Homo sapiens: one gene and its partners. The protein of the gene in region 1 interacts with the protein of each later gene in a pairwise test. Each region holds a gene or a part of one and is shown in the gene's direction. Other genes may lie near its edges. The genes, in order: MAGEB6, CLN3, CCT8, HACL1, FMR1, TPPP and EEF1D.

Region 1 (4,161 bases):
TTGCCTTAGCCATAGCTGTGAAGATGACAACCAAACCCGGGTGGTTCTTTCCCATGACCAAACTCAACCATAGAAAAGTTAAAGGAAGAATTTTTTTTTAAAAAAAAAGCAGTATTAACAACAGCAAAACAACAAAAATGCGAACCTTGAGAGATGGTCAGTTTGTATTGAACAAGAATGGGTGTGTGGGCAGGTAGGGGCATGAGCTGAAGTAGAGACAGGTCTGTGGCCTACAACAGACGCAGATAACGGAATTGGCTAGAGGAAAAGCTTTAAAACTTTGGTCTTTGCTTCTTTCACTGTGCCATTGGACAATGCATTTTTTTTTCTGCTTCACTAAAGGAAATTCAGTCAGAAACTTGGACCCTATGTGCCAGTTCCATGGGGTAATATTGCCACAGCAAAAACATCTGGGTAGGCTGAAGAAGTATGAATCCAGACACTGTGCTAATAACTACCTGAAACTTCTTTAGTGGAAGTGGACTGGCCTTTAAATTCGTATTATTTTAATATAATATAAAGAATGGACTAAATTAGGATAGCAAATATTGCAGTGAGTCACACAAGATAATGGTAGAAATTCATTCATGAAGGTGTTGAATACAGACACTGATGTCAGCCAAGAGAGAAGTCCCAGACATAGCTATCAGGCTAAGAAGTCTTCTCACTTTCTCCTTATGAATTTTACAGGATCTAGTCAGAGGAAGGGGATGAATTTACATCAGAAAATGGAGAAAACTGAGACCCTGCCAGCAGTCAATGTGAGGACCCTGAGTGAGGACTGAGGGGCTCCACATATCAGAAGAGACAAGAGTGCCCCCCAAATCTCCCTTCATTCCCCGATCTTGCATCACAACTTAATAGCAGCAGCCAGGTTTAGGAGGCCCCAGGCAGTAGTGGCCAGGTGAGGTGTAACTGAATTGCACATGAGGAGTCTCAGGAAGTTGAAGTCTAGTCTGAGAGGGTGTCCTCAAGTCAGTAGAGGGGACATGGCAAGAATGAAGCGACGACACTGAGTGAGGGCTGAGGGCAAAGTCCATTCCAAAAAGGGGGTCTCACAGAGCTCCACCCCTACTGTCAGTCTTGGAAGGTCCCGGCATGGCTCCCGAGCTCAGGCTGCACCTTACTTCCAACTCTGGACTCTCAGGGAATGAGAGCCTCTATCTCCGGTTGACTGATTCAGCTCAACAGATAGAGAAGTCCAAGGGTCCGCGAAGAGCCCCTGAAAGAACTTTACGTGAGTTCCCTGGAATCTGCTGCACCCACAGAACACAAGGGGGAGTAACAGAGCCCTGCAGCTACTGTTACGCAGGGAGCGCCAGGTGGGCGTGGCCGGAAGTGGTTCCTCTTGACTTCCACCTAATAAAGGGGTCTGAGCCGGTCGCCTGAGCCTGAAAAGTGCTGTCACGTCAGCGGAAGGAGGCGTCCCAGATCTTCTCAGCTGTCTTGGTGGGTATCCTGACCTAGAACGGGGGGCATTCCCCGACAACTTCAACCCCCTTCCCCCGAAGAAAGGCGGCTCCACAGAGCCCTGCCCCAACCTGCCCCGACCTGGTCCCTGAGGAGTCCCCAAACATGGCTGTTAGGCCCAAAGTCCATTCATTTTTTTCCGTCGTGTTGAAGAACATGAAGGCCTCGGTCCAAGGCTTGTGGACCCAGGTCAGTAGAGGGAGAAATCTCAGGCCCTACATAGTTAAGAGGACCCTCCTTAGAATTGAGGGAGGGGATTCCATGTCCCGTAACGGGTTGCACCGAACTCTGCCCTTGACGTTAGCCTGGGGGTCCGGGCAGGTCTCTAGAGACTGAGGTGCATTCTCACTTTGTCCCTGTGAGAGTCAGAGAGGTAGGCCCCTGGTTGTAAGGAGATGGCAGCAGGTCAGTGAGGGTGATTTCCAGGTTGTGGGAAGAGTCAGGGTGAGGAGTCTAATTACTGTGAGGAGCATTCTCACTATAACTGGAAGAGCACTCAAATGCCTCCGCTGTTGTCAGCCCTAGGTGGTCTGGGTGTCCCCGGAATGAAGTGTTGGGCAGAAGTGCTTCCTTATTTCCTCCGGGTTAAAATTCCTACTGTCAATTTCAGAGTGGCACAAGGAAATGGGCCTCTGGGTCTTGTCAACAATTTTTTTTTTATTATACTTTAAGTTTTAGGGTACATGTGCACAATGTGCAGGTTTGTTACATATGTATACATGTGCCATGCTGGTGTGCTGCACCCATTAACTCGTCATTTAGCACTAGGTATATCTCCTAATGCTATCCCTCCCCCCTCCCCCCACCCCACAACAGTCCTCGGAGTGTGATGTTCCCCTTCCTGTGTCCATGTGTTCTCACTGTTAACTTCCCACCTATGAGTGAGAACATGCGGTGTTTGGTTTTTTGTCCTTGCGATAGTTTGCTGAGAATGATGGTTTCCAGTTTTAATGATGATCCTGAATGTAAACAGAGAGGATCCAACCCCTGAACAGAGGGGCCCCCACTGCCAGCCCCTGCTGTCACCTCAGTAAGCCCCAAAATGGGCTGTCATGCTATAGTCTAATACTCTAACTTCCTCCTGAGTTTGAAGGAGACAAACTGACCAGGAGAAAAGGAGTCCTGTGGGTTCCTAGAGCAGCTGTTCTGCGGAAACCTGCAGAAGGGGCCCTAGTTAAAGCCAAGATGGTCGCTCTCTGCTGAAGATATTGACGTGACGTCACTCTCTCCCATCCAGGTGCCAGCCTTCCTAGTCTTCCTACCCACACTCCTACCTGCTGTCACAGGCCACAGCCATCATGCCTCGGGGTCACAAGAGTAAGCTCCGTACCTGTGAGAAACGCCAAGAGACCAATGGTCAGCCACAGGGTCTCACGGGTCCCCAGGCCACTGCAGAGAAGCAGGAAGAGTCCCACTCTTCCTCATCCTCTTCTCGCGCTTGTCTGGGTGATTGTCGTAGGTCTTCTGATGCCTCCATTCCTCAGGAGTCTCAGGGAGTGTCACCCACTGGGTCTCCTGATGCAGTTGTTTCATATTCAAAATCCGATGTGGCTGCCAACGGCCAAGATGAGAAAAGTCCAAGCACCTCCCGTGATGCCTCCGTTCCTCAGGAGTCTCAGGGAGCTTCACCCACTGGCTCTCCTGATGCAGGTGTTTCAGGCTCAAAATATGATGTGGCTGCCAACGGCCAAGATGAGAAAAGTCCAAGCACTTCCCATGATGTCTCCGTTCCTCAGGAGTCTCAGGGAGCTTCACCCACTGGCTCGCCTGATGCAGGTGTTTCAGGCTCAAAATATGATGTGGCTGCCGAGGGTGAAGATGAGGAAAGTGTAAGCGCCTCACAGAAAGCCATCATTTTTAAGCGCTTAAGCAAAGATGCTGTAAAGAAGAAGGCGTGCACGTTGGCGCAATTCCTGCAGAAGAAGTTTGAGAAGAAAGAGTCCATTTTGAAGGCAGACATGCTGAAGTGTGTCCGCAGAGAGTACAAGCCCTACTTCCCTCAGATCCTCAACAGAACCTCCCAACATTTGGTGGTGGCCTTTGGCGTTGAATTGAAAGAAATGGATTCCAGCGGCGAGTCCTACACCCTTGTCAGCAAGCTAGGCCTCCCCAGTGAAGGAATTCTGAGTGGTGATAATGCGCTGCCGAAGTCGGGTCTCCTGATGTCGCTCCTGGTTGTGATCTTCATGAACGGCAACTGTGCCACTGAAGAGGAGGTCTGGGAGTTCCTGGGTCTGTTGGGGATATATGATGGGATCCTGCATTCAATCTATGGGGATGCTCGGAAGATCATTACTGAAGATTTGGTGCAAGATAAGTACGTGGTTTACCGGCAGGTGTGCAACAGTGATCCTCCATGCTATGAGTTCCTGTGGGGTCCACGAGCCTATGCTGAAACCACCAAGATGAGAGTCCTGCGTGTTTTGGCCGACAGCAGTAACACCAGTCCCGGTTTATACCCACATCTGTATGAAGACGCTTTGATAGATGAGGTAGAGAGAGCATTGAGACTGAGAGCTTAAGGCAGGGCTGGCACTATTTCCTTGGCCAGGGTACCTTATGGGGCCATATCCTACAGATCCTCCCATTTCTAGGGAGGTCTGAAGTAGAATTTTCACTTTATGTTAGAAGAGAGTAGTGAGCTTTCTAAGTAGTGCAGTATAGTAGAGGCTGGAGGGAACAAGATATGTA
Region 2 (3,500 bases), on another chromosome or scaffold:
TTTGAGACGGAGTCTCATGGTGTCACTCAGGCTGGAGTGCAGTGACTGGTGTGATCTCAGCTCACTGCAGCCTCGGCCTCCCGGGCTCTAGTGATTCTCCTGCCTCAGCCTCCCGAGTAGCTGGGACTACAGGCCCATGCCACCATGCCTGGCTAATTTTTTATATTTTTAGTAGAGACGGGGTTTCACTGTATTGGCCAGGCTGGTCTCAAACTCCTGACCTCAAGTGATCCACCTGCCTTGGCCTCCCATAATGCTAGGAATACAGGCGTGAGCCACCGCGCCCGGCCTGATTAGTTCTGTGTATTTTCATGCATATTACAAAACACTTTGGCCGGGCATGGTGGCTCACATCTGTAATCCCAGCACTTTGGGAGGCCGAGGCGGGCGCACCACGAGGTCAGGAGTTTGAGACCAGCCTGGCCAATATGGTGAAACCCCGTCTCTACTAAAAATACAAAAATTAGCCAGGCTTGGTGGCGCTTGCCTGTAGTCCCAGCTACTTGGGAGGCTGAGGAGAAGAATCGCTTGAACCCAGGAGGCAGAGGTTGCAGTGAGCCGTGATTGTGCCACTGCACTCCAGGCTGGGCAACAGAGCGAGACTCCGTCTAAAAAAAAAAAAAACACACACTTTGAACTAGCCAGACACACCTGGCCCTTCACAAGATTAGTGCTTAGGACAAGTCTAAGTAGAAAAAGTGAGTCCATTTAAAGAAAAATATTAAGTAAAAATATATATATACAGGAGGAATATGGATATGGCAAATAACATGAAGCCAGAACCTAAGTGACTAAAATCGAGGAAGTTCTGGCCTAGCACAGAGTGAACGTATAATTAATGGGAGCTAGAGCGACCATTAGAATAATAATGGCCAGAAAACAGAACTGACTCGCTAGGTATGAGCCAGCAGTCCGAACAAGGGCCTGCTGAGCACAGTGGCTCACAGCTGTAATCCCAGTGCTTTAGGAGGCTGAGGCTGGAGGACCACTAGAGGCTAGAAATTTGAGACCAGCCTGGGCAACATAGCGAGACTCCATTTATACAAAAAATGGAAAATATGAGGCGGGCTTGGTGGCACGTGCCTGTAGTCCCCGCTACTTGGGAGGCTGAGGCGGGAGGATTGCTTGAGCCTGGGAGGTCGCGGCTGCAGTGAGCTATGATTGCACCACTGCATTCCAGCCTGGATGCTGGAGAAAGACCCTGTCTCTGAAAAAAATCAAAACAAAATGAAGGCCCATGAATAGGAATAAGGAGATAAATTCAGGTCCAAAGAAAGAAGCCTTTGTCCACAATTGGAGCTCTCCCGCACAGCGTAGGAGCCTTAGAGGCAGTGAGCTACCCATCTTTGAAAGTGTTCAAAGGTAGAGGTGTTCCCTGGGAAAAGTGGCCTAGATGGTCCCTGGGGACCTTCCCAGCCAGTAGGGTTTTCTGACCCTGCCTTCATCCTACTCCTAGCTATTTCTTGTTGCTCACATCTCCTGAGGCCCAGGACCCTGGAGGGGAAGAAGAAGCAGAGAGCGCAGCCCGGCAGCCCCTCATAAGAACCGAGGCCCCGGAGTCGAAGCCAGGTAGGAGACACAGACCCTCAGAGAGGTCACTTTCTTTCTCTCTGGGTTTGGCCTTTTCCTCTCTGCAATAGGCAAAGTTAAGAGGGGAAAGAGAGTGAGTGTACTGGTTATGGGAAAAGCCTTTGTCTATTTGAGAAATACTTGTTGAGGACGAGCACAGTGGCTCACGCCTGTAATATCCCAGCACTTTGGGAGGCTGAGGCAGGAGGACCACTTGAGCTCAGAAGTCTGAGTCCAGCCTGGGCAACAGAGCAAGACCTTGTCGCAAAAAAAAAAAAAAAAAAAAAAAAAAGAAAAGAAAGGAAGGAAGGGAGGGAGAGAAGAAGGGATATTAATTGAGTACTTACCATGTGCCAGGCATTCCAATCACAAGTGCTGAGGCCCTGCGGTGGGGATAAGCTGGGATGTTCTAGAACCAGAGAATGGCCAGTGAGACTGGGCAGGGTGGGCCAATGGCCATCTGTGGAGCTGTACAAGAGACATTGGCCGGGCGTGGTGGTTCATACCTGTAATCCCAGCACTTTGGGAGGCTGAGGCAGATGGATCATTTGAGATCAAGAGTTTGAGACCAGTCTGGCCAACATGGTAAAACCCCGTCTCTACTAAAAATAAAAAAATTAGCCAGGTGTGGTGGTGCATGCCTGTAGTCCCAGCTACTTGGGAAGCTGAGGCACGAGAATCACTTGAACCCAGGAGGCAGAGGCTGCAGTGAGCTGAGATTGCACCACTGCACTGCAGCCTGGGCAACTGAGTGAGACTCTGTCTCAAAAAATAAAAAAAATTAAAAATCAAAGAGACGTGAAGAGGTCTCACCTGGTTAGCTTTTATTTTCATCATGATAAAGTATGTATATTACTTGAAGTTTACCATTTTATTATTTTTTATCTTACTTTATTTTTTTGAGGTGGAGTTTCGCTCTTGTTGCCCAGGCTGGAGTGCAATGGCGCAATCTCAGCTCACTACAACCTCTGCCTCCTGGGTTCAAGTGATTCTCCTGCCTCAGCCACCCGAGTAGCTGGGACTACAGACACCTGCCACCACACATGGCTAATTTTTGTATTTTTAGTAGAGATGGGGTTTCTCCATGTTGGCCAGGGTGGTCTTGAACTCCTGACCTCAGGTGATCCGCCCACCTCAGTCTCCCAAGGTGCTGGGATTACAAGCATGAGCCACTGCGCCCAGCCATTTTAACCATTTTTAAGTGTCCAATCCAGTGGCATGGAAGTGAGTTCCCACTGTTGCGTGGTCTGGTTAATTCTGTCATACCGGTGCCTCTTTGCCGAGTCTTCAGTGTGAAAACTTCATCTGCCCTTCTCTCTCTGTTCCCCTGCAGGCTCCAGCTCCAGCCTCTCCCTTCGGGAAAGGTGGACAGTGTTCAAGGTTCGGATGATGGCTGGGGTATGTCCCTGTGGGGCTTGCTCACCTCCAGGCCCCCCGCTTATATCTTCTGCCTTTTCCAGGGTCTGCTGTGGTACATTGTTCCCTTGGTCGTAGTTTACTTTGCCGAGTATTTCATTAACCAGGGACTTGTAAGTGAGGGGTGCTAGGAGGGGTGTGGAGGTGGCGATTGGGGCTGGGACCCACACAGCCCCGTCCATCTCCCCTGTCTGGTATTTGTTGCAGTTTGAACTCCTCTTTTTCTGGAACACTTCCCTGAGTCACGCTCAGCAATACCGCTGGTAAGAGGAGCGAGGGCAGTGGGCTGGGAGGGCGCCGTGGTGATGCAGCTGCCCTGCCCAGTAGGCACCGGGGGGAGCGGGATGGTCCCTGGAGGAGCCTCCTCTCCTCCCCCCAACCCTAACCTCAGGTACCAGATGCTGTACCAGGCTGGCGTCTTTGCCTCCCGCTCTTCTCTCCGCTGCTGTCGCATCCGTTTCACCTGGGCCCTGGCCCTGCTGCAGGTACCAAACCCCTGCCCCTCACTTCACTCC
Region 3 (3,500 bases), on another chromosome or scaffold:
AACATCCATATGCATTGGGTTACCAAAATAAGCTACTTTAAGTCATGTCAGAATAGGAAATGTTGTTTATGTTTTAGGTCATAGAAGGTTATGAAATAGCCTGCAGAAAAGCTCATGAGATTCTTCCTAATTTGGTATGTTGTTCTGCAAAAAACCTTCGAGATATTGATGAAGTCTCATCTCTACTTCGTACCTCCATAATGAGTAAACAATATGGTAATGAAGTATTTCTGGCCAAGCTTATTGCTCAGGCATGCGGTAAGTAAATATCAGTAAATGAAAAGATCCAAAATAAAAATACCTTTAACATGACTAGATACTTTCTCTGTTGTCCCAAAATAATCTTTTGATATGTCTCATTTTCTTAACAGTATCTATTTTTCCTGATTCCGGCCATTTCAATGTTGATAACATCAGAGTTTGTAAAATTCTGGTAAGTAGAAAATGCATTAATGCTACATATCTAGGTCAGTTTTTTTGTGTGCTTTTTTTGTTTTTTTGTGCAAAAAAAAAAAAATGTGTTCATCTAAACCTAAATGTTACTTCATGATTTGAACACTTAGGACTTTTTTTGAGGCATTATTTTTATTTATGTACTTATTTATTTTTGAGACGGAGTCTCGCTCTTGTTGCCCAGGTTGGAGTGCAATGACATGACCTCGGCTCACCGCAACCTCCGCCTCCCGGTTCAAGTGATTCTCCAGTCCCAGCCTCCCGAGTAGCTGGGATTACAGGCATGCGCCACCACACCCGGCTAATTTTGTATTTTTAGTAGAGATGGGGTTTCTCCGTGTTGGTCAGGCTGGTCTCGAACTCCCGACCTCAGGTGATCCACCTGCCTTGGCCTCCCAAAGTGCTGGGATTAACAGGCGTGAACCACCGTGCCTGGCCTTTGAGGCATTATTTTGTAACATTTTGATGTTGCTAAGTTGTAATAATACTACTACCTATTTAAGTTTAAAAGGATATTGACATATTATCTCCTTATAAAGTCATTTTCTGTGATGTCTTGTGGGTTTAAGAATAATGTATAAACAAAATACTAAATTTTTTTTTTTTTTTTTTTTGAGATGGAGTCTGGCTCTGTTGCCCAGGTTGGAGTGCAGTGCCTCGACCTCGGCTCACTGCAACCTCCACCTCCCAGGTTCAAGTGGTTTTCCTGCCTCAACCTCCCAAGTAGCTGGATTACAGGTGCATGCCACCATGTCCAGCTAATTTTTGTATTTTTTTAGTAGAGGCAGGGTTTCACCATGTTGGCCAGGCTGGTCTCGAACTCCTGACCTCATGATCTGCCCACCTTGGCCTCCCAAAGTGCTGAGATTACAGGTGTGAGCCACCGCGCCCAGCGCAAAATACTAATTTTTTTGTGTTCTTCATAATACTCTGAATTATAATAAGCTTATAAGACAGTTTTGAGTGGGGTGGAAATCGTCCTATTCCTCTTCAATAATAGAATTCACACTTTAATGTTAGTATTGAAATATTAAAGTATATTTTTGATAAAATGTGCTTGATAGAGTAAAACCTATCAGTGGAATGGTTTTGGTTTTGCACATTGGCATTCTGATTGTTAATGTGAATTTAGCATAACATAAGTACATGTGCTTTCCCTGAAGATACTCACGTGTTCTATGTTTGCTGTCTCCCTCCACGTACTGCCAGCTTTTCCCATTAAATGCAACCTTGTGAGAACAGAATCTTTGCTTTGTTCTGTGTTGTATTTGCAGTACTGACAGCTGTGGCTGGTATATTGGCACCAAGTACTAGGTAACTGAATGGCTAAGACCAGTTCTCTGCCTTTGGTTCTTCCCAGTACATGGAAGGACCTCCCCTCCCTAAAAGTAGCTCATTCCCTCAGTGATTTCTGCCTCGAGCAGAAGGGTGTGCTGTATGTCCACCACTCCACCCCTTATCCCAGGAGTCACTGCCTTGGTTTATGACTTTATTTTAGAAAGGGATATTTTTGGTATATGGAGAATCAACAGTTTGACCGTAATGTTATTTTCAGGAGATTGCTGATGAGTTTGGTATTCAATTCCTTAGGGCTCTGGTATCAGTTCCTCTTCAGTATTGCATGGCATGGTTTTTAAGAAGGAAACCGAAGGTGATGTAACATCTGTCAAAGATGCAAAAATAGCAGTGTACTCTTGTCCTTTTGATGGCATGATAACAGAAACTAAGGTATGTAGACTTCAAACCTTAAAAGTAATAATTGGGGTTGCACTTTCAGATTGTTTGAGTTAGCTCTTAAACCAGTAAGTACTTCTTAAAAAACTGAACATTGCAGGATCTTACCTATTTTTTTATGCCAGATTTATAGTCTTCAAATATCTAATTCAACTACTGAACATTAAACTGGAAATATAAAGATGGTGGCCGTATTATTTATAATCTGACACACAGCCCTTCTAGTAGAGCTTATACATTCAGCAAGTGAAAGAATATGAGAATGTGAGTATTTTGTGTGCTCTTCACGAAAATAAAGTTGACATTCTGTAGCATCCTAAAACAAGATAAGCTAATGTAATTTGAAAATGGTAAGTATGTTTCTAAAAATACATGTTAGAAAGTTTGAAGTTTGTGTTTATAGTCAATAGTGGCTGACTTCATCTCTAGAATTCTTGAAATCCAAGTTGTTGATAGTTTTAAAATTTTGTAGCATGAGGGGGGTCTGGTCATTTGGTCCATATTTTATTTTATTGTATTTTATTCTTTTTTTTTTTTTTTTTTTTTTTTTTTAGAGTCTTGCTTTGTCACCCAGGCTTGAGTCCAGTGGTACAATCTTGGCTCCCTGCAACCTCCGCCTCCTGGGTTCAAGTGATCTCTGGCTAATTTTTGTATTTTTAATAGAGACAAAGTTTCACCATGTTGGCCAGACTGGTCTCCAACTCCTGACTGCAAGTGATCCACCCGCCTTGGCCTCCCAGAGTGCTAGGATTACAGGCATGAGCCACCGCGCCCGGCCTAGTCCACATTTTAGAAAAAGTTTGAGAACCACAATGTTGTATTGGGAACACTAGTTAGCCTTTGTCAAAAGACAAACACCAGGACACCTACCTACCTGACATATTTAAAATAAAAGCACTTCTCGGCCGGGCACGGTATCTCACGCCTGTAATCCCAGCATAGGCCAAGGCAGGCAAATCACGAGGTCAGGAGTTCAAGACCAGCCTGGCCAACATGGTGAAACCCCGTCTCTACTAAAAATGCAAAAATTAGCTGGGCGTGGTGGCGCTTGCCTGTAATCCCAGCTACTTGGGAGGCTGAGGCAGGAGAATCGCTTGAACCAGGGAGTCAGAGGTTGCGGTGAGCCGAGATCCTGCCTGCACTCCAGCATGGTGACAGAGTGAGACTCTGTCTCAAAATAAATAAATAGATAAAAGTACTTTTCCACCTAAGTACTTATCAAAAGCAGATGCATCTGTTTTGACAGGGGGTTCTAGAAGCAAGCTGAGTTTCTATTTCACACATACAGTATTCTGCTGCTTCATAATATATGC
Region 4 (3,500 bases), on another chromosome or scaffold:
GTGGAACCTCTGCCTCCTGGGTTCAAGCGATCCTCATGCCTCAGCTTCCCCAGTAGCTGGGATTACAGGCATGCACCACCACACCCAGCTAATTTTTGTATTTTAGTAGAGATGGGGTTTCACTATGTTGGCCAGGATGGTCTCTGTCTCTTGACCTCATGATCTGCTGGCCTTGGCCTCCCAAAGGGCTGGGATTACAGGCGTGAGCCACCATGCCCGGCCGAAAAGTTCATATTTAAAACATTTTTGCTGTTTGAATGAACTTCTGGAGCTGCACTGGCAAGTATAGTAGCCACGAGCCGTATGACTTGTTTACATTTAAATTAATTAAAATTAAATAACATTTAAATCATAGTTTATCAGTTTGTAGTAGCCACATTTCAAGTGCTCAGTAACCATGTCAGTAGTGGCTACCGTATCATACTGCAAATGCAGAACATTTCTATTACTATACAAAGTTCTGTTGGATAGTACTGTTCTAGAAGTTTAGTTTACTTGGTGGTAATTACTTATTTTCAAGTCTGTCTTAAACAGAAATTTTTAAGAAATTATTTTATAAGTGTAAAATGGTGAACTGAATTATATTGAGATACCTTTTTCCCGAGTGGTTTAAGCTTAGAAAGTCACACTGAAGGGTAAAACATTCAAGTTCAATATTTATTTATTTGGAGTCTCACTCTGTCGTCTCCATGCTGGAGTGCAGTGGCACCATCTCGGCTCACTGCAAACTCCACCTCCCAGGTTCCAGCGATTCTCCTGCCTCAGCCTCCCAAGTAGCTGGCACTACAGGTGTGCACCACCATACTCAGCTAGTTTTTATATTTTTTAGAGACAGGGTTTCATCATGTTGCCCAGGCTGGTCTTGAACTCCTAGACTCAAGTGATCCATCTGCCTCAGCCTCTCAAGATGCTGGGATTACAGACGTCAGCCACCGTGCTCAGCCTCAAATTCAGTTTTAAAAGATTTTGGGGACCAGGCGCGGTGGCTCATGCCTGTAATCCCAGCACTTTGGGAGGCCGAGGCGGGTGGATCACCTGAGGCCAGGAGTTGGAGACAAGCCTGGCCAAACATGGTGAAACCCCGTCTCTACTAAAAATACAAAAATTAGCCGGGTGTGGTGGCACATGCCTGTAATCCCAGCTACTTGGGAGGCTGAGGCAGGAGAATCACTTGAATCCGGGAGGCGGAGGTTGCAGTGAGCCGAGATCACACCATTGCACTGCAGCCTGGGGAACAAGAACGAGACTTCGTCTCAAAAAAAAAAAAAAAAAAGACAAAAAAAAAAACACAAAACATTTTGGGCAGAGCACTGCATTCAGAATTACTTTCCTATCAAAGATCAGTCGACGTTATATTTATTTGTTAAGAAATGAAAAAAAAACCTTTTTTCATACAAAAATGAACTCAGCAGTCAAAAATTTGCTTCTGTATACCATTAACTTGATTTAGTCCAGATGTAGTCCAGATCAAAATAAGTGGTTAGAGACATAAGGTGTGAAAATGATAGGTACCTTATTTCTCACAAGAAATCCGATATCTTTCTTTTTTTGGGCCAGGCATGCTGGCTTATGCCTGTAATCCCAGCACTTTGGGAGGCCAAGGCAGGCAGATTGCTTGAGCCCAGGAGTTCAAGACCAGCCTGGGCAACATGGTGAAACCCCATCTCTACCAAAAAAAAATACAAAAAATTAGCCGGGTGTGGTGGCATCTGCCTGTAGTCCCGGTTACTTGGGAGGCTGTGGTGGGAAGATCACCTGAGCTTAGGAGGTTGAGGCTGCAGTGAGCCCTGATCATGCCACTGCACTCCAGCCTGAGCAACAGAGTGAGATGCTATCTCAAAAAAAAAGTGTGTATATATATACACACACGCACATATATATGTGTGTATATATACACACATATATACGTATGTGTGTATGTGTGTATATATACATATATACGTATGTGTGTGTATATATACACACACATATATGTATATGTGTGTGTATATATACACTTTTTTTGAGATAGCATCTCACTCTTGCCCAGAGTATATATGTACATATGCGTACATGTGTATACACGCACACATGTGCGTACATGTGTATACACGCACACATGTGCGTACATGTGTATACACGCACACATGTGCGTACATGTGTATACACGCACACATGTGCGTACATGTGTATACACGCACACATGTGCGTACATGTGTATACACGCACACATGTGCGTACATGTGTATACACGCACACATGTGCGTACATGTGTATACACGCACACATGTGCGTACATGTGTATACACGCACACATGTGCGTACATGTGTATACACGCACACATGTGCGTACATGTGTATACACGCACACATGTGCGTACATGTGTATACACGCACACATGTGCGTACATGTGTATACACGCACACATGTGCGTACATGTGTATACACGCACACATGTGCGTACATGTGTATACACGCACACATGTGCGTACATGTGTATACACGCACACATGTGCGTACATGTGTATACACGCACACATGTGCGTACATGTGTATACATGTGTATATGTATACAAGTGTATATACAAGTGTATATGTATACAAGTGTATGTATACGTGTGTGTATGTATACGTGTGTGTATGTATACGTGTGTCTACATGCATACGTGTGTGTATACGTGTGTCTACATGTATACACGTGTGTGTATACGTGTGTCTGTATGTATACATATATATAGAGTATACTCTGGTGCCCAGAGTATATATACATATATGTATACATATATATACGTATGTATACATATACACGTATGTATACGTATATATGGATCCATATATACACGTATGTATACGTATATACGTATGTATACATATATACACGCATGTATACATATATACGTATGTATACATATATACATGCATGTATACGTATATACGTATGTATACATATATACACGTATGTATACGTATATAGTGTGTATATATACGTATATAGTGTGTGTATATATACGTATACGTATATACGTATATATACGTATATAGTGTGTGTATATATACGTATGTAGTGTGTGTATATATACGTATATAGTATATACTATAGGTATATAGTGTGTATATATATACACTATGTATATAGTGTGTGTATATATACACGTATATACGTATATATACACTATATACATATATAGTGTATACACTATATACGTATATGTGTGTATGTATATATATCGCGATATATATATATCGCCTTGTTTTTTAATTAAAAATATTCTAATAATTGTTTTATCAGTTATAGTAAAGACTTGTATGTCCTTCCTTTGAAGTCCAAGATTGCCATGTTTCACACTAAAGTGTTATGAATCAGTTGTTACATTTGACCTGATTTTAATAAATTCTGTTTTGCTTTTAGGCCAGGAGTCTGCCTTGTTGTTTCTGGCCCAGGTCTCATCCATGCCTTGGGCGGTATGGCAAATGCAAACATGAACTGCTGGTAATGACATTATTATTACTGAAAACATTT
Region 5 (3,500 bases), about 120 Mb from region 1:
ACCTTGAAGAATTTGTATTCCTTTTGGATGTATGTATAGCTGCTTAAGCCACTTTCAGACTTAGATTATCTTTTATAAATGTGCCTTCCATACAGAATTCTGAAAATATTTACCATGGACAAAGAAGCAGATTTAAATCAGGTACAGACAAGAATTGAAAGTGTTGAATAAGTGAATATATTTCCCATTCTCTCTACTTTTTTCTTAATTCTTATAGAACTTTGCAGAAAGAATGATACATACCACAGTACCAGCAAGTTTAAAGCGTACCCTTTTGTGCAAAAATAAGAGGTTATCTTTGAACTGCCTTAAAAATCCAAAATTACCCTATCAGTTTGCAAGTATTAATCAACTCTGGTACCTGACCAAAGGAGTTTAAACAATGATGTCCTAATTAAACAGAAAACCAGATTAACCATCTTGTTGAAAAGAGTCTCTACTTTGGTTTTGAAATCTTACAATTCAATACATACACATACACATAAAAATATCTATCTATATGAATGTAATAGTTTACAGTAGGGCTGTGCTTACTGCTTTGAGGTATGTGTTTTTAAAACCAAACTTGATTTATTTATTTCTTAGGCAAAGTAATAGGAAAAAATGGAAAGCTGATTCAGGAGATTGTGGACAAGTCAGGAGTTGTGAGGGTGAGGATTGAGGCTGAAAATGAGAAAAATGTTCCACAAGAAGAGGTATGTTACAGTGCGAATATTTTGTGGCACATATAATAAAAGTAAAAGTTTTTTATGTGATATGTTGAGGACCTCTAATATGTGCATAAAGTGAATGCAAATATTCTGATTATCAAGCATGCCTGCTGTAATTAATGTTATAATTGTAGATAATGGCCCTTCTCTGTCCTCTAATGCAGTGAGTTTGGATTAGTCACTTTATTGAATTCTTTTTTCCTGATCTTTAAAATGGGTAGTTATAAATTTTTAAATATGAGACATACATCACTGGGTCGAGTGTTAATGGCAATTTAATAAAATAATATATATGTAAATGCTTCGTAAAGCACTTTGTAAATGTTAATGTTGCTGACAAAAGCAAAATTGGAACACAGGTTTTCTGGCTTTCATCTTTTCACTTTTTTAGTGTGGGGATTGTGTAGTATGTGTGTTTATTCTGTGTGCTTTAAATTTATTTCTGTGCTTAATATCTCTTCCCCATCCTCCTTACCTTTAAATTCTGTAACCCTTTTATCTTCATAAATATATGCTTTTTGTAGCAGCTTTTAAAGTATTTGCATGGGGTAGAGAGGTGAGGATGCACCTTTCTGTGCAATAGTACTCTTAAGATACTGTCTCATCAAAGAGCCGTAATTTTCACATATTGTCTAGCTTTCTTTTTGAAAGATTCTTTTAGCTAAAGTTAAATCTTTTTTTTCTGCGTACAATTTGTATTCGGTAATTTTATAAACCAAAACTGTTTATAATAACTTACATTTTTTAAAAATATGATGATTGATAACACTAATAGAGCTAAATAAAGTCTTAAATTGGTCCTTTTTTTCTCTTTTGTGTTTTCTGTTTTTTACCAAGGAAATTATGCCACCAAATTCCCTTCCTTCCAATAATTCAAGGGTTGGACCTAATGCCCCAGAAGAAAAAAAACATTTAGATATAAAGGAAAACAGCACCCATTTTTCTCAACCTAACAGTACAAAAGTCCAGAGGGTAAGAATTACTTGTCACTTTGAATTACAATACAAGTAATTTGTCTCAGATGTCACAATTGGTATTTTGGATGTTTTCTCTGGTTAGACTTGTAGGCTACTTATGTTCTATTTTTTTTCCAAATGTAATTGCCAGCTTATGAGATACTACAAATTAGTGTGATACATACTTTTCAATTTATTCACAGTAACAACTCTTATGCCATAAACACAAAATAATGGGGTTGCATTTAGTGGTCACATTTTTCTTTTGACAGTGGACTCTCTTTTTTCCATGCCTTCTCTCTTTAAATTTTGCAGGTATCGTAGCTCAAAATACACCTTCTGTTAGTTGCATTAGTTACTACTTGAACCATATTTTAGAAACTAATTTTCTCTGTTTGAACTAATCTGTTTAGAAATGGGTTTAAAAGTCCTGCAGTGAAAGTCCTGCGTTCAGGCTTCTGTGTATCGTTTGTTATAGTTAATGACATCCCTTGCATTCCTTATACTGCTTTAGGTGTTAGTGGCTTCATCAGTTGTAGCAGGGGAATCCCAGAAACCTGAACTCAAGGCTTGGCAGGTAGGAAAACATTCCTTGAGAAATACACTTTCAGTTTATATTTTAATGTTTATTCCCCTTGTTAACAAAGATTACAAATGATCCTCAGGATTAGGGACTGGAGGGAGGAGTGTTTGTGGGTATGTGGATCCATTGCCCTGGAGTTAAAGCTTAAACACCTTCATGCCGCTTGTAAGGCTTTTCCTAATTACTTGTCTAGTTATCATCTTTAAATTATCTTCTCCCTTGCACTCTAGAGAACCTTAAGCCATACTGAAGTACTTTGAGTTCTCTGAACATTCTCGTGCTTATTTTGCTTCTAGACATATGTACAGGTTTACTCTGCCTGGAATGCTTTTTCTCCTCCACATGTCACCTCATTTTGACCTTATTCCTTACAAAGCTTTCCTTGTGTACTTGCCGAAGATCCCCACCCCCTTGACTGGTTCAAGAGCCTTCCCCTTCTGTTTTGCAATGTGCTCACCCCTAGCATAGCACTTAAACATAGATGTTTATTTGTTGATCTCCTCAACCACATTGTAAGTTCTTTGAGGGCAGGGAGAGCTGGTGAGAACTGTTTATGGAAAAAAATGTTGTGGACTCATGGATTAAAAGCAAAGGTGCCATTTTACAAAGAGGACTATAACGGCAAGTGGATTGGATATGTCTCATTGCCGGGCAGCCCATTATTCCAGAACACAGAGTAACTTTTTTCTGGGGTCCGTACTAAAGGCCATCATTCCATTCTTGCCTTTCTTCATTTTAATTTACTATTCAGGTCTACTCGTGAAGTGCTTAAATTAGAGTGGCCCTTGGGGTACTCCAGCAGTTTAGACATGTTGCAAGAAAAGATATTCGTAAATAATTTGCTCCGAAGTCAATCTAACTAAATCTGTTACATAGGATTTTAAAGCTATTTTGGTGATATTTGACCCAGAGGGAAGGGTGTAGCATTCATTCCATCACATGGTATTTTGGGAAATAATACAGTTAAAGGCTTTTGTAACAAATAAAGCTTGTTGGAGAAAAACCCAACATGCAGAAATGAATTGCCAGTTATTAATTTGCACAATTGTTTCTAGGTTTCCCTATAACTTGTGACAAGAAGTAGTTGTTTTTTTTTTCCCTCTTAATATATATATATATGGGCTAGGAGTACAGACATTTAGCATATGCCTTTTAAAAATCTGTTCTTATGTTAAGTAGTGTCCATAGAGAGAAGTTCAAACTTTCCTTGTGATTCAGCCTTTTAAAATTTTCAGAGTACATTATTGAAAT
Region 6 (3,500 bases), on another chromosome or scaffold:
GGGGGGTCCTGGGAGGCGTGGTCAGGAGGGCGTGGCCTGGTGTGGGGTCTGAGGAGGTGTGGTCAGAAGGGGCATGAATGGGGCATAGCCTGGAGGGTGAGGCCTGGGGAGGCGTGGTCAGGAAGGGCATGGACTGGGAGTTGGCCTGGGAGGGGGTGGGTGGGTCCTGGGAGGCATGGCCAGGTCGGCGTGGCCTGGGGGGGTCCTGGGGAGGCTTGGTCTGAAGGGGCATGGATTGGGGGGGCATAGCCTGGAGGGTGGGGCCTGGCTGTTCTGACAGCCCCTTCCCTCTGAGGGTGCAGGTGGTGGGGTCCCCAACTACATAAACACCAGGTGGACCTGGGCAATTGTTAGGGTTGTGGCACCCCGCAGGCCCAAGGCTGCCCCAGGGTCAGGAGAGGTAAAAATAAGAATTAAAAGGGGCATAAATCCCAGGGTTTATGCCCCTTGCCCAGTGCCCCACCGCTGGGAGACCTGCCCAGGGCACAGCCATTTCACTTGCTGGCCTCACCTGGCTCGCAACTCACCTGCCCCCTTCCTCCTGCTCCTCTTGCAGAAAGCCATCTCGTCGCCCACAGTGTCGAGGCTCACGGACACCACCAAGTTCACGGGCTCCCACAAGGAGCGCTTCGACCCCTCTGGCAAGGGCAAGGGCAAGGCTGGCCGCGTGGATCTGGTGGACGAGTCAGGCTATGTGTCCGGCTACAAGCACGCAGGCACCTACGACCAGAAGGTGCAAGGGGGCAAGTAGCCCCCGCTCCATGCCTCGCGGCACTGCCGGTGTCCCCAGAGCAGGGACTCTGTCACCTCGCACTTCATTACATTCCTGTACTAACTGGGGCAGAACTCAGACGGGTGCCCCAGAGGGGGCTGGGGGGCGGCCAGGCCCAGGCCTCCCTCCTGCCCCTCCTCCTACCGGATGCCCCCAGCACTCCCCTCTCAAACCAGGTTTGGGCCCCAGTTCGCTGACCCTCCTAATACACCTGCCTCGTCCTCAGCCATTTCCAAAGTGTCTCGCGGATCACACCACACTGGGCACGTGGTTTGCAGGTCAAAGGGGCGTTTTAAAGCAGCTGGCTGTCATGGCAACAGGAGGCTGTGCTGACCTCCTGAGCGGCAGACACCTTCCAGGAGCCCTGAGGGTGGCAGGAGCTAACCCCAACCAGCAGGCAACTAACACGGAATTGGCCCCACACCGGACGTGGGAGGTGTCTGTGGGGCCCGAGGCCTGTCCTGTGTGCAGCGGACACCACGGGGCCTTCCTGCTTTCCTGGGCAGAGGGCAGAGTGAGGCCACCTGGCGGGGGTGCTGGGCGCCTGGCACATGTGTGGGGAAGCCGGTCACATGGACACACCTGTGCACACATGCCTACAGGCCAGCTCTGTGCCAAGGGCAACCTAGGTAAAACGAAAGCCGTCAGGGGCAGTGGGCGGCTTCCCGGCTGACCACAGTGGCTTGGACTGTGAGGGTAGAGTAGGCTCGCTTTGCTTTCCTGAGAAGATGCGGTGGCTGCCTATGTTCTCAGAGCGGGTCTGGGAAGATTCAGAATGTCCGGTCCCTGTGGTGTTGCCAGGCAAGAGACACGAAGTGCCGAGACACTCCTCGCCTCACCGCGTGACAGAGCCTCTGCCCGGCCCTCCCGTTCGCCCGTCCTCACTAGCTGCACCCTGTTTGCTCGCAGACCTCCCATTGCCACAGCCCAAGCACCTTCTTCAACTCTCCCAAAATGGCTCAGCCTAACCTCTCCTGGCCAATCCCCCCCGCCGGAGAGCAGGACACTAGGGAGGACCCCCAGTCCTGCAGTGTCTGTGGGGGTTTCTCTGCCAGCAGGGGGCTGAGCAGAGCCCATCCAGGACACTCCACACTGCCAGGACACACCCAGGCGGCCCGCCCTTGCCTGTCTGCACCTGGGGAGAAGCCGGCGCTCCTGCTCCCTCCTGGGGAGGCTGACGGGTGTGGCCACCCGCTGTCACAATGGCACACTGCCACTGTCCCTTGGCACGCACACAGCCACAGCCACACGTGTGACCTGCTGGGCCGTGGTTCTGGAGTCTACCTGCGGATGAGCCTGCGGCAGTCCTGGGGAAACTTTTCCAGAGCCTGTTAGCCCGTGGCTACGGTCAGGCTCTGGCCAGGGCAGAGGGCTGCCCAGGGCCAGGCTCACAGTACAGGAGGGTGGCGAGGCCCCTCCCTCACTGGCACGCATGAGCACCACCCGCCTCCCCGACTCCCAAGAGTGCACCTGCTGCGGCCACAGCTCCGTGGAAGGACTCCCCCTACCTGAGCAGAGCAGAAGCCCCAGGGCGGAGCTCCCAGCCAGCATGGTCCGCTGAGGGCTGGGGGGCGGTCTCCGAGGCCCCTCAACAGAGAAGCCTCCACCTGAGGATGGGGAGGACCTGGCAGGCAGCTTCCACGGCAGGGCTGGGAAGTTCAGTGCCTGGAAATAAAGAGCAAGGAAAAATGGACCTCAGGCTTCGTGGCTCCTTTAGGATGTCACCTCACCGGCCTGGGGAAGGCGGGGGGTGCCCAAGCCCAGCCCTGTGCCCCCGCTGAACCTGGCTGGACCGCGTGTGAAAGGCAGAACTAACGTGCGGAAACATTTGAAAACAACTCTGAATGTGCGGTTCGGAATCACCCGATCACAGACGAGCGGTCACCGGAATCGCCCGGTCACAGACGAGCAGTCATCGGACTCACCCGATCACAGACGAGCGGTCACCGGAATCGCCCGATCACAGACGAGCGGCCACCGGAATCGCCCAATCACAGACAAGCAGTCATCGGAATCACCCGATCACAGACGAGCAGTCATCGGACTCACCCGATCACAGACGAGCGGTCACCAGACTCGCCCGATCACAGACGAGCAGTCATCGGAATCACCCGATCACAGACGAGCAGTCATCGGACTCACCCGATCACAGACGAGCGGTCACCAGAATCGCCCGATCACAGACGAGCAGTCATCGGAATCACCCGATCACAGACGAGTGGCCACCGGAATCACCCGATAACAGCCCATCACAACTCCAAAGCCCTTGTGTTGAAAAGGCCGAGGACGAGTGGTCACCAAACAGGGTGGCTCCCCAGGTCCCGAAGCCTGAGACCCGGAAGGCCCTGGCACCCTTACACCCTCGGACTCCTGCCCTCCTCGGCCTCCCTGGCCCCAGCGCGGCTCCACCCTGGGCTGCGTCTCCTGGTCACAGGCTGCGTTTCTCCTTTCTGTCCGTGGGCAGCCCAGTCCCCACAGTCACGGCCAAGCCACGCAGAACGAACATGACTCCAGAGGACCTCGCCCTGGAGCTGAGCCTGGCGCCGGGTCAGGACGGAGGGAAGGGCGGGTTGGGGTCCGCGGGTCCTCACACCGCACGGCAGGCACAGAGGCTCGCCAGGCCCTGATCCGGTCTGTGGGGACGAGGGACACTGAGGAGAGGTGCTGGGCACCAGGACGCTGCCTCCTGGTCCCTGGTTGGCCTCAGACAAGCACGGCCTCGAGAAAA
Region 7 (3,500 bases), on another chromosome or scaffold:
CTCTTTTTTTTTCTTTTCCCCTGCTCTGTTGTCCAGGCTGGAGTGCAGTGGCGCCATCTCGGTTCACTGCAAGCTCCGCCTCCCGGCTTCACGCCATTCTCCTGCCTCAGCCTCCCTAGGAGCTGGGACTACAGGCGCCTGCCACCACGCCCGGCTAATTTTTATTTTTATTTTTAGTAGAGACAGGGTTTCAACGTGTTAGCCAGGATGGTCTCAGTCTCCAGACCCTGTGATCCGCCCGCCTCGGCCTCCCAAAGTGTTGGGATTACAGGTGTGAGCCACCGTGCCTGGCCGAGGCTCCTTCTTTTGTAAGAACTTTGAGGGTGCTCTGGGTGTGGCAGTGGTGTGGCCAGGACAGCCACAGAGACCGTTCTGTAGAATGGGAACACCAGCCACCATGGTGGGGTGGCCAGGCCTGGCCTGTGGAAAAATGCAGGGAAAGCTAGTTAGCCAGTTAAAGCTTATTTCAGATAAATGACGAAAAATTTTTAGTGTAAGTATGTCTCAGATACTTCATGGGCCATACATTCACTAACAAAATTATATATTGTTCATGTATTGGGAGGCACTTGGCCTCCCAGAGTACTGAGATTACAGGCATGAGCCACTGCGCCCGGCCTGTTTTCTCTTCACAACAAAACGTCCCCACATGGGCTTGACTTCGAAGTCCTCGAATGTCATCTCATGGAAGCCCCACTGGGGAGCATCCTCAGCCCCTGCCCAGGGAGGGCAGCCACGGGGAGGGCGGGCACGGGGAGGGTGGGCACGGGGCTGCGGCCACCCGCTGTGTTGCAACTCTGCCCTCTGCTTGCTTTTTATCGCTGTGTCCGGAAGATGAGGAGCGGGAAGGCCTCCTGCACCCTGGAGACCGTGTGGGAAGACAAGCACAAGTATGAGGAGGCCGAGCGGCGCTTCTACGAACACGAGGCCACACAGGCGGCCGCCTCCGCCCAGCAGCTGCCAGCCGAGGGGCCAGCCATGAATGGGCCCGGCCAGGACGACCCTGAGGACGCTGATGAGGCGGAAGCCCCTGACGGCGGCAGCAGGCGTGATCCCAGGAAGAGCCAGGACAGCAGGAAGCCCCTGCAGAAAAAGAGGAAGCGCTCCCCCAAGAGCGGGCTCGGCCCCGCGGACCTGGCCCTCCTGGGCCTCTCGGCCGAACGCGTGTGGCTGGACAAGTCACTTTTCGACCAGGCAGAGAGCTCCTACCGCCAGAAGCTGGCAGATGTGGCTGCCCAGGCAGCCTGGCCTCCTGCCTTGGCCCCTTGGGGTCTCTGCACCCATGGAAACCAGGTGGCCTGCCACCACGTGACCTGGGGGATCTGGGTCAACAAGTCCTCCTTCGACCAGGCTGAGCGGGCCTTCGTGGAGTGGTCTCAGGCCCTGTTGCTGGCCCCCGACGGCAGCCGCAGGCAGGGGACTCCCAACACAGGCCAGCAGGTGGCCGTCCCCGACCTGGCCCACCAGCCCAGCCCACCGGTCAATGGCCAGCCCCCGCTGGGCAGCCTGCAGGCACTGGTTCGGGAGGTGTGGCTGGAGAAGCCCCGGTATGATGCAGCCGAGAGGGGCTTCTACGAGGCCCTGTTTGACGGCCATCCCCCAGGGAAGGTGCGCCTGCAAGAGCGAGCCGGCCTGGCCGAGGGTGCCCGGCGGGGCCGCAGAGACCGGCGGGGCCGCAACATCTTAGGGAACAAGCGGGCCGGGCTGCGACGGGCCGATGGGGAGGCCCCCTCTGCCTTGCCCTACTGTTACTTCCTGCAGAAGGATGCAGAGGCCCCCTGGCTCAGCAAGCCTGCCTACGACAGCGCCGAGTGCCGCCACCACGCTGCCGAGGCCCTGCGGGTGGCCTGGTGCCTCGAAGCTGCCTCCCTGTCTCACCGACCCGGTCCTCGGTCTGGCCTGTCCGTGTCCAGCCTGAGACCCAAGTAGGAGAAACGTGCTGGGTGGGCACCCAGCCTGGGCTGTGGGCACAGGGACAGCCATCCCAGGCTGGGGCTCCTCCAGCTTCCTCCCCTGCCCACCTGGGGTGGGGGCTCCCCGAGACCCGTGGGCCCAGCAGAGTTGAATGCAGGAGCAGGCTGAGTAAAGGTGGTGCTGCGCTTGTGGGTTCCAGGGACACTGCTTGAGGTTACAAAGTTCCAGGCTGCCTGGATGAGGGCAGGGAAGGGCTCAGCACAGGGCAGAATCTCTGCCTTGCCCAGGGTCCCTCTTTGGCTGGGAAGCTCCCCAAGTCCCCTGTGGCTGTCACATGCCAGGGCTGAGAAGATAAGGCTACTTATAGGGGCGGGAAGCATTGAAGCTGGTTTCTGGCCCTAGCGCTCCCCTGCGATGAGATGTGGGAGCCAGTGTGTCCCTGCCTGTCCATCCTGTGCACCCCCAGCTTTCCTTGTCACCTGAAACCACCTCTGAGGGAAGGTGGTGGCGTCTCAGATGCATGGGCATGTGGCTGGTCAGGTGGCCTCCATCCCAGGGTGCCCCGTCTGTGTGACCTCCCTCTGGGTGCTGTGGGCTTGCTCCAGGGTGCAGGTGCAACCCCAGCAGCGGTCTCTGGGGCCAGGCAGGTGGGTGGACGATTGGACTTGGAGGGGAATACAGAGGGCATGGAAGTGGCGAGGCTGGCCTGTTGGCGAGGGTGTCCTGGTGGTGGGGCGGGCTGAGTCAGGGAAGGACTCTGAAGGTCCCAAGCAGCTGCTGAGGCCCCCAAGGAAGTGGTTCCAACCTTGGACCCCTAGGGGTCTGGATTTGCTGGTTAACAAGATAACCTGAGGGCAGGACCCCATAGGGGAATGCTACCTCCTGCCCTTCCACCTGCCCTGGTGTTCACGGTGGCCTGGTCCCTCCTTGCCGAGAGAGTGTCCTGGGTCAGGGACGCAGAGGACGCTCACAGACTCCAGCCCTTTGTTACCGAGAGGACACTTGGCAAGGTCCAGCGATGGTCCGGAGTCCACACACAGACTGGCGGCAGGGCAGGAGGGGGACAGTTCTGTTGTGCTTGGTTGGACAGTAAGAGGGTCTTGGCCAGTCCAGGGTGGGGGGCGGCAAACTCCATAAAGAACCAGAGGGTCTGGGCCCCGGCCACAGAGTCATCTGCCCAGCTCCTCTGCTGCTGGCCAGTGGGAGTGGCACGAGGTGGGGCTTTGTGCCAGTAAAACCACAGGCTGGATTTGCCTGCGGGCCATGGTCCCTGTCTAGGGCAGCAATTCTCAACCTTCTTGCTCTCAGGACCCCAAAGAGCTTTCATTGTATCTATTGATTTTTACCACATTAGCAATTAAAACTGAGAAATGGGCCGGGCACGGTGGCTCACGCCTGTAATCCCAGCACTTTGGGAGGCCGAGGCGGGTGGATCACCTGAGATCAGGAGTTCAAGACCAGCCTGGCCAACATGGTGAAACCTTGTCTACTAAAAATACAAAAAATTAGCCAGGCACAGTGGTGTGCACTGGTAGTCCCAGTTACTCGGGAGGCTGAGGCAGGAAAATCGCTTGAACCCAGGAGGC

What was found.
Region 2: the proteins of MAGEB6 (region 1) and CLN3 interact in binary tests that used the Homo sapiens proteins (3 or more experiments, as listed by UniProt).
Region 3: the proteins of MAGEB6 (region 1) and CCT8 interact in binary tests that used the Homo sapiens proteins (3 or more experiments, as listed by UniProt).
Region 4: the proteins of MAGEB6 (region 1) and HACL1 interact in binary tests that used the Homo sapiens proteins (3 or more experiments, as listed by UniProt).
Region 5: the proteins of MAGEB6 (region 1) and FMR1 interact in binary tests that used the Homo sapiens proteins (3 or more experiments, as listed by UniProt).
Region 6: the proteins of MAGEB6 (region 1) and TPPP interact in binary tests that used the Homo sapiens proteins (3 or more experiments, as listed by UniProt).
Region 7: the proteins of MAGEB6 (region 1) and EEF1D interact in binary tests that used the Homo sapiens proteins (3 or more experiments, as listed by UniProt).

Annotation. Positions count from the first base shown.
Region 1 is NC_000023.11:26,191,079-26,195,239, forward strand, and holds the start of MAGEB6 (melanoma-associated antigen B6), read left to right. Parts: upstream 1-1,361; 5' UTR 1,362-1,449; intron 1,450-2,707; 5' UTR 2,708-2,768; coding exon 2,769-3,992; 3' UTR 3,993-4,161.
Region 2 is NC_000016.10:28,482,075-28,485,574, reverse strand, and holds part of CLN3 (battenin), read left to right. Parts: intron 1-1,456; coding exon 1,457-1,569; intron 1,570-2,902; coding exon 2,903-2,949; intron 2,950-3,029; coding exon 3,030-3,098; intron 3,099-3,192; coding exon 3,193-3,248; intron 3,249-3,376; coding exon 3,377-3,470; intron 3,471-3,500.
Region 3 is NC_000021.9:29,063,649-29,067,148, reverse strand, and holds part of CCT8 (T-complex protein 1 subunit theta), read left to right. Parts: intron 1-77; coding exon 78-258; intron 259-371; coding exon 372-433; intron 434-2,043; coding exon 2,044-2,181; intron 2,182-3,500. UniProt on the Homo sapiens protein: Component of the chaperonin-containing T-complex (TRiC), a molecular chaperone complex that assists the folding of actin, tubulin and other proteins upon ATP hydrolysis.
Region 4 is NC_000003.12:15,591,570-15,595,069, reverse strand, and holds part of HACL1 (2-hydroxyacyl-CoA lyase 1), read left to right. Parts: intron 1-3,389; coding exon 3,390-3,470; intron 3,471-3,500. UniProt on the Homo sapiens protein: Peroxisomal 2-OH acyl-CoA lyase involved in the cleavage (C1 removal) reaction in the fatty acid alpha-oxydation in a thiamine pyrophosphate (TPP)-dependent manner.
Region 5 is NC_000023.11:147,935,919-147,939,418, forward strand, and holds part of FMR1 (fragile X messenger ribonucleoprotein 1), read left to right. Parts: intron 1-585; coding exon 586-695; intron 696-1,547; coding exon 1,548-1,682; intron 1,683-2,180; coding exon 2,181-2,243; intron 2,244-3,500.
Region 6 is NC_000005.10:662,353-665,852, reverse strand, and holds part of TPPP (tubulin polymerization-promoting protein), read left to right. Parts: intron 1-527; exon of another isoform or gene 528-556; coding exon 557-751; 3' UTR 752-3,500.
Region 7 is NC_000008.11:143,587,416-143,590,915, reverse strand, and holds part of EEF1D (elongation factor 1-delta), read left to right. Parts: exon of another isoform or gene 1-308; intron 309-834; coding exon 835-1,925; intron 1,926-3,500.